2 separate regions of the Homo sapiens genome follow, and region 1 is linked to region 2. The links come from fine-mapping of genetic effects on gene expression. A gene starts in region 2. The other region holds a variant in brackets. All regions are shown on one strand. Distances are from middle to middle. Region 1 overlaps WRAP73 (WD repeat containing, antisense to TP73). Region 2 holds the start of TPRG1L (tumor protein p63 regulated 1 like).

The links. PIP is the estimated chance that this variant, and not a neighbour inherited with it, causes the effect. A credible set is the group of variants that fine-mapping cannot tell apart.
Region 1: its variant is the best candidate, but not a certain one, in a credible set for the expression of TPRG1L in whole blood (TOPMed, PIP 0.51).

Annotation. Positions count from the first base shown.
Region 1 is chr1:3,643,861-3,649,234 of GRCh38, forward strand. It overlaps WRAP73 (WD repeat containing, antisense to TP73), which reads right to left. Exons shown (of 12, transcript NM_017818.4): 2 at 3,548-3,700; 3 at 2,806-2,922. Among named protein-coding and RNA genes, the nearest start is that of WRAP73, 3.6 kb to the right of the region's middle. The variant C/T (reference allele first, on the strand shown) is at 3,004.
Region 2 is chr1:3,622,475-3,627,848 of GRCh38, forward strand. TPRG1L (tumor protein p63 regulated 1 like) reads left to right here and starts at 2,541. Exons shown (of 5, transcript NM_182752.4): 1 at 2,541-2,799; 2 at 2,950-3,041; 3 at 3,239-3,415; 4 at 5,026-5,179. The coding sequence starts at 2,599. It also overlaps a transcript of MEGF6 not described here. RefSeq lists enhancers at 1,815-1,934, 2,915-3,577 and a silencer at 2,385-2,614.

The DNA of each region.
Region 1 (5,374 bases), 21 kb after region 2:
AGCGGCCCCGCTGAGCCCCGGACATGGGGTCGCGCCTTCGGAAGGGGACCCAGCGGCCCCGCTGAGCCCCGGACATGGGGTCGCGCCTTCGGAAGGGGACCCAGCGGCCCCGCTGAGCCCCGGACATGGGGTCGCGCCTTCGGAAGGGGACCCAGCGGCCCCGCTGAGCCCCGGACATGGGGTCGCGCCTTCGGAAGGGGACCCAGCGGCCCCGCTGAGCCCCGGACATGGGGTCGCGCCTTCGGAAGGGGACCCAGCGGCCCCGCTGAGCCCCGGACATGGGGTCGCGCCTTCGGAAGGGGACCCAGCGGCCCCGCTGAGCCCCGGACATGGGGTCGCGCCTTCGGAAGGGGACCCAGCGGCCCCGCTGAGCCCCGGACATGGGGTCGCGCCTTCGGAAGGGGACCCAGCGGCCCCGCTGAGCCCCGGACATGGGGTCGCGCCTTCGGAAGGGGACCCAGCGGCCCCGCTGAGCCCCGGACATGGGGTCGCGCCTTCGGAAGGGGATCCAGTGGCCCCGCTGAGCCCCGGACATGGGGTCGCGCCTTCAGAAGGGGACCTAGTGGCCCCGCTAATCCTCGAACGGGTCTGGTCCTTGCTCTTGTGAATGAGACTGATGGACGGTGCCCGCAGCTCACTTCCTGGCCAGCACGTCTGGAATTCCGGTTTTGTTTCCTCACTTGCAACCATTAAAGTTCGCATGCAAAGCTGGAGACACATTTTGACATCTTGGTCAAGATGCCCCATGCCTTGAGGTTACCGGTCCTCATCCACCACCTGGTCTTAACGTTTCCTCTAAGGCCACCAGCAAAGTGGTCATGACCTTAGTCTTAGGTTGAACAATGTCATCTAAATGTACTCTATGAAAAATCAGTTTGTTCTGTAGCAAAGGTGTTTTCAATATTGGTGTGTGTGACATGGGATGCTCAACAAAACCAGGCTTTTATCCATCTTTTAAGGTTTCTAAACTCTATAGATGGTAGTTTTCCTTCTGGGCCATTTAATAAGATAATACAACAAGGCTGACCCCATGACATGAGCCCTTCTCAAGGGCAGATTTGGGCCCAAAGCATTACAGGCCTGAAGACTGTTAGACACGGCTGCGTGAAAAGCTCAAATTATCCTCTCTGAAACACTCAGGCCGAAAGTGCCTTCCAATGTCAATACATAGTGCGGAGACATTGGTGGGCCTTTGTTTCCTGTCTTATTCTCTGACAGCCCATAATAGCAGACATTAGATTTGGAGTATTTTTTAAAATCGAAACTGAAAAATATGTAAAGCCATCCAGCCATCTGAAGCAGTTGATTCAGCAACCCTCATGGCTGGATAAAACTTTATCCCAGCCGATGCCAGCTTGAAAAAAGCCGAATGAAACCCTACAGAGCATCTGCAGCCACACGCTGGGAGAAATCCTCCCAGGTGCCATCATCTACGTGGTGTGCGCGGCGCAGCGGGACGGGAGGGCTGCAGTGTGGTGTGAGCGGCGCAGCGGGATGGGCGGGTTGCCCCGTGGTGTGCGTGGCGCAGCGGGACGGGCGGGTTGCCCCGTGGTGTGCGCGGCGCAGCGGGACGGGCGGGTTGCCCCGTGGTGTGCGCCGTGCAGCGGGACGGGCGGGTTGCCCCGTGGTGTGCGCGGCGCAGCGGGATGGGCGGGTTGCCCCGTGGTGTGCGCGGCGCAGCGGGATGGGCGGGTTACCGAGGTGCAGCCAGCAGCCCAGACAGCTATGAGCACTCAGTGGACTTGGGCCCAAACACTGGGATCCAACTCCATCAGAAAAGCACATTATTAAAGGAATTCGTCCATTTTTCTGTATCTTAAAAAGACACTGCGGACACCAAAGACCTGGTATCTAAACACTTGACATATGCCTAATTTTAACTTAAAATGCAGTCTCCTATCCCAGATCCCTCTGATTTATTCTCGGATGTCAACATTCCCCTCCGCGCTGAGCTCAGCACGGAGGCTGTTGTGCGGTACCTACAGCAGGTGAATGGGCGGCTGCCGACCGCCCCGAGCCACGCCCCCAGGCCAGGCTCCTGAAGGAAAGGTGCGAGCCGGCTCATATCACAGCGCATTTTCTATCGTTGAATTAAAGGGAGTGCCGAAATCCTAAAAAATCTAAATTAAGATTTTTAAAATGTTTTTTCTTCAAAACTGGACAAAAGATCAGACAATAATACTTAGTGGCTTATAATGCTCTGACCTAAAATATACACACCACTATATACGCTCCCCGGCTCCCTCCAACCCCGCCAATCTACCAGCCACTCGGGAGCCACCTCAGTCATCAGACCCAGGGCAGCAGACAGTGCCTGTGTTCACGACACCCTTATCTGACTCAGTAGCAGCCCAAAGCACGGGCGGTGGGGCTCGCAATCTGGATACGCCAAAGAGAAGCCACAAAGTGCTTCCTTTAAATGACGAGCTGAAAGTTCTTGACGCAACAAGGAAAGAAAAAATCCTATGCTGAGGTTGTTGCTCAGATCTTCAGTAAGACCAAATCTTCTATCCATGCAATTATAAACAGTATATTGTTATCCTTGTTCTATACTATGATTGTTGCTAATCTCTTACTGTATCTAATTTATAAATTAAATGTATCACAGGTATGCTGTATAGGAAAAAACACAGGAAATACAGGGTTTGGTACAATCTGAATCCCCTGGTGGTCTTAGAATGCATCCCCTGAGGATAAGGGGAGACTAGCATACTCCAAACACACCCCCTCTCGCACTCCCCAGCTGTTTCGAGAGCAGAGGACAGGATCACATGGCCAGTAAGGTGTCTTGGGGCTGACACTTACATGGAATTCCGTGGTGTTGAGAATGTGGCGCCCGTCCGGGCTCCAGCACGAGGCCACCAGCCCGGCTGAGCCCTCGTCTATTTTGCAGTGCCATTCGGGCTGCTCTAAAGACCAGACCTGGATTGAGAGAAGAAAGAAACACACAAGTGCAAACTCATCAGCACCGAGAGACAGCGAGGACAGCTCGCTTAAACGCAG[C/T]GGAGACCCGACCGCACAGGGTGTCTTCAAACTCATCAGCAGTCTATAGCGAGGCCTCGCCGAGAGACAACTCCCTTAAAACCAGCAGAGACCCGATCACACAGGGTGTCTTTTAGAACCTTTCATGATGAAGGGCTGGTGCTGGATTCCAGTGTAAAAGTAAGCCACGCTTCTTGGTGATTTCATTTCGTTGTTGTTTTAAAACTGTTTATTCACATTGTCATTCCTAAGACCTCATTTAGTTAAGCTTTGGACACAGAAGAAAACACGACTTCTTAGGACTTCCTGAAACACACCACATCCGCGTGGCTAGATTGCTGTCAACACCTCCGTTTCTCAACTATATTGCTTAGAAATTAAGACTACGTTGGAGTTTCCTTAGTTTAAATGTTCTTAAACTTTAGAGAACGTTATAATTTCAAAAGAAAACTGGCTTTGAGCTGCACGGACTTTTTTTTCAAACTAGAAAGGCACAGAACAAAACCCCTCCTTCCCAGGGGCCCTCAGAAGGTGTCCAGATTCTAAGCGACACGGCAGCACACACCTGCACCAGCCCTCGCTTGTACATGGCGCACAGGATGAAGAGCGAGTCTGCCGACCACTCGATGTGCTGGATCTGGTCTAGGCACGTGTACAGCTGAAGGATCTGAAGGGTGTTCACATCCCGGACCACTAACCGGTACTGGACACAGGAAGCCTAAAAAATATGAGAAAGCAAGCACCTGACATTCTCCACTCCAAAAGAGGGGGGCCTTCGGAATGCTACTGCCCTGGCCTTCAGTGACTGTGGCCTTCTCTCCTGCCAGAGGTTTCATGTCTAGATCACCAGTGACATCCCCAGCCCCTAAAGATCAGTTCAGTTCATACAAGGGTAATGTTGAAATATACAAGCCAGGTTTTAATATTGCTATACTCTATTGTAAAGTATAAAAGTATGTTTTAACTCGCTACTTAAAGCTTTAAGACATTTTTAAGTCCCTTCTTATCTGTATGTTAAAAACTAAACTTAAATGGGAAGTAGCATTGGGAGAAAGCTCTTCTGTGAACTAATAACCAAAATCCTCTGCTAGTTTTATAAACACTTTTGGACAATTTCCTCAAATTTATAAAGGGTAAGAATTGAGGCTTCACAGATGACAACGAAAATGGCAAGGAATGCATCAATCTTCTTATGCAGTGCCGAACTCAGAGCCAAAACAACAGAAGATCAAAAGACAGGCTTTCACTTCTGCACACATAAAGATGCTTCGCAAATGCTCATTTATCTCCATTAACCTATTCCTAACACGAAACGGGAAATGTTTAAGTGTTAGTACTATTTTCTTAAAGATAGTTTCTTCTTGTCCATATTTGTTCATTATGTCCCTATCCAAGCAAACAATTTCAAGTAAAAATAACGCCTGAGTACTCACCTGCTGAATGTATATTTTACTACAGTTTCAAGATCAAGAACTGATGTTTAAATATTAACTGCTTCGTTAGTTTTACTTATCAAGGTCAAAGTAGTTTGTGTTTTATGAACCGATATCAAAAAAGAAAGCCACGTTAGTTTTCCGTGGGAGAAAAGAGAGACAGGCGGGTGACGGCAGATTGGAACAAGGAGCTACCACAGCACTTACTTTCTCACACTGTAGCTTTGAAAACTGTGATCAGTTACAGTGAATTCCTTATGAAATGGAATATTTTTACCAACACCTTGAGGAACCACATAAACTCTACTGCAAGATATGAAAACTAGAAACATGGACCTGCTCTCCCCAGTCCTCAGGGCTTTCAAGAAGATGATTCCAGTAACAGATCATTACCAAGTGTTTCAGGGTATTTTGACCAGAGTGTACAAGCTGGAAAAAAACACCCAAGTTAAGCAAGCAGATGTAATCTTTCTCCTTATAATTCACTGAAATTTTCATAAATGGTAAAAACAAAAAACAAACCTCTCATTTAATTGAGGAGGGGGGCACATTGAAAATATACCAAGGCTGAGATGCCATTTAAACTAATGAGGTTTTCTGTTTTGTAGCTGATGCTATTTTATGTGATTTGGAATAAAACCTCCCTGAAGAGGTAAAAAACGTAATTTGAGAGTTAAACTCTCAAAAGCTAGACAGAGCACAGGAATGTCAGGAGTGGCAAAACCTGAAAAAGCATCATGATACATCAGTCAGTTAGTACAGGTGGTGGATAAGGAAAACGAAGCCCACTTTTTACGAGGCATGTTTCTTCTTAGTGGCTTTCCAATGCCAATTGTCCCCCTCTTCTGAGGACATACATACTAGGCATCCGGGTTATCCCTCTCTTCTGAGGATATACACTACTAGGCATCCAGGTACATACACTATATGTTTTGAAGCTTAAAGTTATAGCTCTGTGA
Region 2 (5,374 bases):
TTAATAGCAGTGGGAAAACAAACAAACACAGTGACCTTATTTGATCAAACATGATGATGATCGACTAAAGATGAGGTCACTAGGGTGGTCCCTAATCCAACAGGGATGTTGCAGAAGAGACCCACCTGGAGAAGGTCGTGTGAAGATGGAGGCAGGGATGGGAGCAGTGCATGAGCAAGCCCAGGACACCAAGCAGGCCTGGCAGAGCAAGACATGCGTCAACCCTCAGGGCTGCAGAGGGAGCATGGCCCTGCACACTCCTTGATTTTGCACTTCTGGCCTCCAGGGCTATGAGGAAACACGTTTCTGTTGTTTTTAAAACAGTTGTTGTTTTTAAAACCAGTTTGTGATGCATTGTGACAGAAGCCCCAGGAAACTCATCCATACTGAGTGAAATTTGTTTATTGTCTAAAATACAGTCCCTCCATCATCTATCCCTCCTATCATTTCTGGAATTTATAGACATCCAAGTCACTCCCCATATCCACAGAAGGCTCAGGCACCTGGTTCAGAATCCTCATTGTCCTGCCAGCTCCCACCAGCAGTCTGCAGCCTCGGCCCCAGCCAGTGTCACTTCATCCCATTCCCTGGACATCTGGTTCCAGGACCACAGCTCCATCCTTGGCGTGGTCCAGAACTTGCTCCTACCTCTCTCCCCCATTCTCCCTCTTTCTCCCCCCCATTCTCTCTCCCTCTCTTTCTCATTCTCCCTTCTCCTCCCTCTTTCTCCCTCCCTCTCTCTGGAATCTCTGGTTCCAGTTGCCCATCACTGACTACAGCTTGCAGCTGTCCAGGTATTTCTCATCTACATCCACTCAGCTCCCTCCCGGCCTCTGTTCTTCCTCCCTCAGGGGTATTCTCCCACTCACCAGCACCTGTTGGATCCGCGGCCATTTCTAACCGGACTGGATACTTGGACCTCAAGGTCCCCGCTGGTAAGATAGCTGGGAGACACTCGTCTGTAGGTCCCTCTGGCAGGTCTTGCTGGGCGTGCCAAGAACACATTGCCCTGACCACTCTTTTCTGGGCCATTTCTCACGCCTGTGCTTGCAGTGGGCACCCTTGCCGGGGAGACAGCCTCCCTGTGGGACAAAGACCACATTGGTCCACAGGATCCAGGGTCCTGTTTTGTAGTGCACCCGCTGTGGTGCAACATGCGTCTGGGCACACCAGCGTCGCCCGTTTCCTGTTGTAGTCTTTCCTCTCTGACTCCAGGGGTATTGGGTCTTTCTGCCAGCGCCCATGCAACTTTGGCAGCCTGGCCTGTCTGCTGGCAAGTGGGGCAGAATCCCTGCACTCCACCATTCTTGGGCAACACTCCCTCTAGGATTTTGGCCTCCCTTTTCTCTCTGGTCTTTGACCACCGCTACCCAGCAAACTCCTCCATCTAGACCAGCCAGCATTGGTTTCTTCCACTCCCCCAGCTGCCGCGTGGGAGGCGCCACTGCAAACTTCCCTGGGGTCTCCCAGCTGCTCAGAGATCCCCATGCCCTTCCCTGATCAGCTCCCTGCCCGGTTCTCATCCCGGCGATTCTAAACCGTCCATCTTTACAAATACTCCGCTCCATCCCCACTCCCTGACTGAAGTAAACAGATGTATCCTGAACTCCTCATTCTCCCCCCATCTCACTCTCCTCGCCTGTGTGCACCTCGCCTCGTGTGTCTTCCTCACCTCCGAGCAGAGGGATCTGTCCTCCTGCCCGAAGGTAACCCTGACCCCTGGACTCTGCGCCTCCTTCCCGCAGCCTCCACCAGATTGCGGGTCCGTTCACCGCCCCCCTCCACACGCGCTGGGGGCACCTCCGGGAGCTGGGGCTAGCGCAGGGCACACACATGTTCCACCTCGAACTGCGAGCGCTGACCGGGATCTCTGGGCAGCCCTCTCTGTGTGCACTGGCTTGCTGAAGGCTCGCGACAGCCTGGGCCCGGGCGCGCATTCCAGCACTTTCTACCCTCCGGCTTCAGAGTGCATTGCTCTGTGGATCCGTCACGAATAAGCCGTGTGTGAAGAACGCCAGGTCCCGGCAGAAGATCGCTGCCCGGCGTGCGAACTCCCCCACGGTGCACCAGGGCCGCCGCCCTGCATCCTCCAACCTCAGCTCCCCGGCACCGCGACCCTCCGTGCAGTGCGAGCCCCCGATGGGCGCGCGCCCCCACCTGCGCTCCAGAAGGCCGAAGGGGGCATCCCACTTGCAGGGCGGGTCACCCGCTTTCCCCGCGGGCCAAGGGGCTCCAAGATTCCCAGCCCCTCCTTCCCAGCCGCTCCGCGACACCCTGGCAACCGGCTTCGGCCCCGCCCCTTCTCGTTGTGTAAACAGGAAGTGAGCCTGCGCGTGACGGTCGCTTCCGGCCCGGCGAGGGGCGGGAGCGATTGTGAACGGCGGCGGGGCAGAGCCAATCGCGGAAAACGGCAGGAGGAGAGCCAATCCCGAGGGTCGGCGGACGCGGGAAGGGGCGGAGCCAGAGGCGGGGCCGGCAAGGCGGAGCCAATCGCGGCGGTCCGCGGGGCGGGGCCGGGGGCGCGGCCGGGTGGTGGCGGTGGCTGCGGCGACGGCGGTCGCGTCGGCGTCAGGGTCGGGGTCGGTAAGGGGTGCGGCAATGCTGCAACTGCGGGACTCGGTGGACTCGGCCGGTACGAGCCCCACGGCGGTGCTGGCGGCCGGCGAGGAGGTGGGGGCAGGCGGCGGCCCGGGCGGGGGGCGGCCGGGGGCGGGGACGCCGCTGCGCCAGACACTCTGGCCTCTCAGCATCCACGACCCCACGCGCCGCGCCCGCGTCAAGGAGTACTTCGTGTTCCGGGTGAGGCAGGGGCCAGGGCCGGGGCGGGGGCCGAGGGCGCGGGGCGGGATGGGGGCGGGTGGGGTCGGAGGCGGGCGCCGGGCGGTCCCGCAGGGAGCGAGCTGTGACCTGTGATCTTTGCCCCCGTCCCCCACCCCGCAACCCGCCCAGCCCGGCAGCATCGAGCAGGCAGTGGAGGAGATCCGCGTGGTGGTGCGGCCCGTGGAGGACGGCGAGATCCAGGGAGTGTGGCTGCTTACCGAGTAAGCCGGGGCTGCGCTCTCCTTGGTGGGGGGACTCGCCCCGAGCCGCCGCGCAGCACCTTGCGAGGACTTCCCGGGGTGCTCGTGCCACGCTCAGGCGCCCCGTGCCGCCCCTGCTGCCCTTCCAGGCGGGCTGGCCTTGGCTAAGTCGAGACAGCCGCGTCCAGTGTGGACTGAGGCCCCTCCTCTGCCTACAGGGTGGATCACTGGAACAATGAGAAGGAGCGGCTGGTGCTGGTCACGGAGCAGTCCCTGCTTATCTGTAAATACGACTTCATCAGTCTCCAGTGCCAGCAGGTGGTGCGGATAGCGCTCAACGCAGTAGACACCATTTCCTACGGAGAATTCCAGTTTCCCCCTAAATCGCTCAACAAGTAAGCCTGTTCAGAGTCCAGTATCACTGGACCTAAGCACCAGAGTGGACCTTACAATTCAGCCCTTTTAAATCAGCCCCCCAAGCGGTGTGTCTTCTCTGTCATTAATTATAAGCACAAAGGCTCCAGCTCCAAATATCAATGGGAAGTTCCTTAAAAAGAAGCGACTTCTGGGCAATTGAGTGCATTAAAAGGAATTCTGGCACAGAAGGCAGCTATTAGGCTGGTAGTAAAAAGACTTACATGAGTTCAGGATGCATTGAAGTAGAGCCCAGCGTGTTAAAAAGGAACTTGGATGTTCTTCAGGAAAAGTCCAAACTCTGCATTTTTCTCCAGCCAGGGACAGATTGCATATGACACATCAAGTCTTGCTCTGGCTAATTTTTTAAAGAGAAATGGAGGGTCCCGTTGTAATTTATAGATACCACTAAAAGACAAATTTGGAAATATTTAATGACCAGCTTTCAGGAGTTGATCTTTTTGCTGTAGGATAATTTTCTGACGTGAGGAACCTAAACATTACTACAGTCAGTTAAGCTGTAGAACTTGGGTTTTTGATGGAGAGATTTGGATGGGGGATTCAGGAAGCTAAAATAAAAATTTTACCTTTTGGTTAAAACATTTAATATGACATAAGGAAAAGGAAGATTACACTTCCTTTTCACTCATTTGGCTAGCCTATCTATAATTATTCCCTTTTTTTTTTTTTTTTGAGACGGAGTCCCACTCTGTCACCCAGGCACCAGTGGTGCAGTCTTGGTTCACTGCATCCTCCACCTCCTAGGCTTAAGTGATCCTCTCACCTCAGCCTCCCAAGTAGCTAGGACTACAGGTGCCCGCCACCACACCCAGCTAATTTTTGTATTTTTTGTAGAGATGGGGTTTTGCTAGGTTGCCCAGGCTGTTCTCAAACTCCTGGGCTCAAGAGATCCGCCCATTTTGGCCTCCCAAAGCGCTGGGATTATAGATGTCAGCCACCGTGCCCAGCCAGTATTCCTGTTTATTAATTTTTAATCATGTAAAGATTACCAAAATAATACATTTAATAACCAAAATATACCTAATTTGTCATATTTATACCCACAGTATTTAAAGCAATTGTTAGTGGAGATTGAAGTTACTACTAAAAACCACAGGCCGGCCAGGCACGGTGGCTCACGCCTGTAATCCCAGCACCTTGGGAGGCTGAGGCGGGCGGATCACCTGAGGTCAGGAGTTTGAGACCAGCCTGACCAAAATGGATAAACCCTGTCTCTACTAAAAATACAAAATTAGCTGGGTGTGGTGGTGCATGCCTGTAATCCCAGCTACTCCGGAGGCTGAGTTGGGAGAATCGCTTGAACCCAGGAGGTGGAGGATGCAGCGAGCCAACATCAGGCCACTACACTCAAGCCTGGGCAACAAGAGCAAAACTCCATCTCAAAAAATAAAAATAAATAAAAACAAAAATAAAAACTACAAGCCGTTTTCCATTGTGATATGTCATAGGTCTTTTCTGTAAACGTGTGCTTTTTGCTGTCATATTCTCCTAACTGATGAGACTGTCAGATTGTCCATGAGAGCACTGTGGCCTGCCATGCTAAGTCTGGCTATTTCTTCTGACTTTTCAGGCGAGAAGGTTTTGGGATTCGAATTCAGTGGGACAAGCAAAGTCGTCCTTCCTTCATAAACAGATGGAATCCCTGGTCTACCAACGTGCCCTATGCCACTTTCACAGAACACCCGATGGCTGGCGCAGATGAGAAGACAGCATCTCTGTGTCAGGTAAGAAGACAGGCACATAAATAGCCGCGCCCCCCGCAGTGATGGAAACACCCCCCGCAGTCACGGAGACACTTCAGGTCTGCACTGTCCGGCGGCCACGCGGAGCTGCCGAGCACTTGAGACGTGGCTAGAAATGAGAGAGGAAGCTCTCATTTTAGAGTTGATTCCCTAAGTTGTCAGAAATTCTGGTTAATT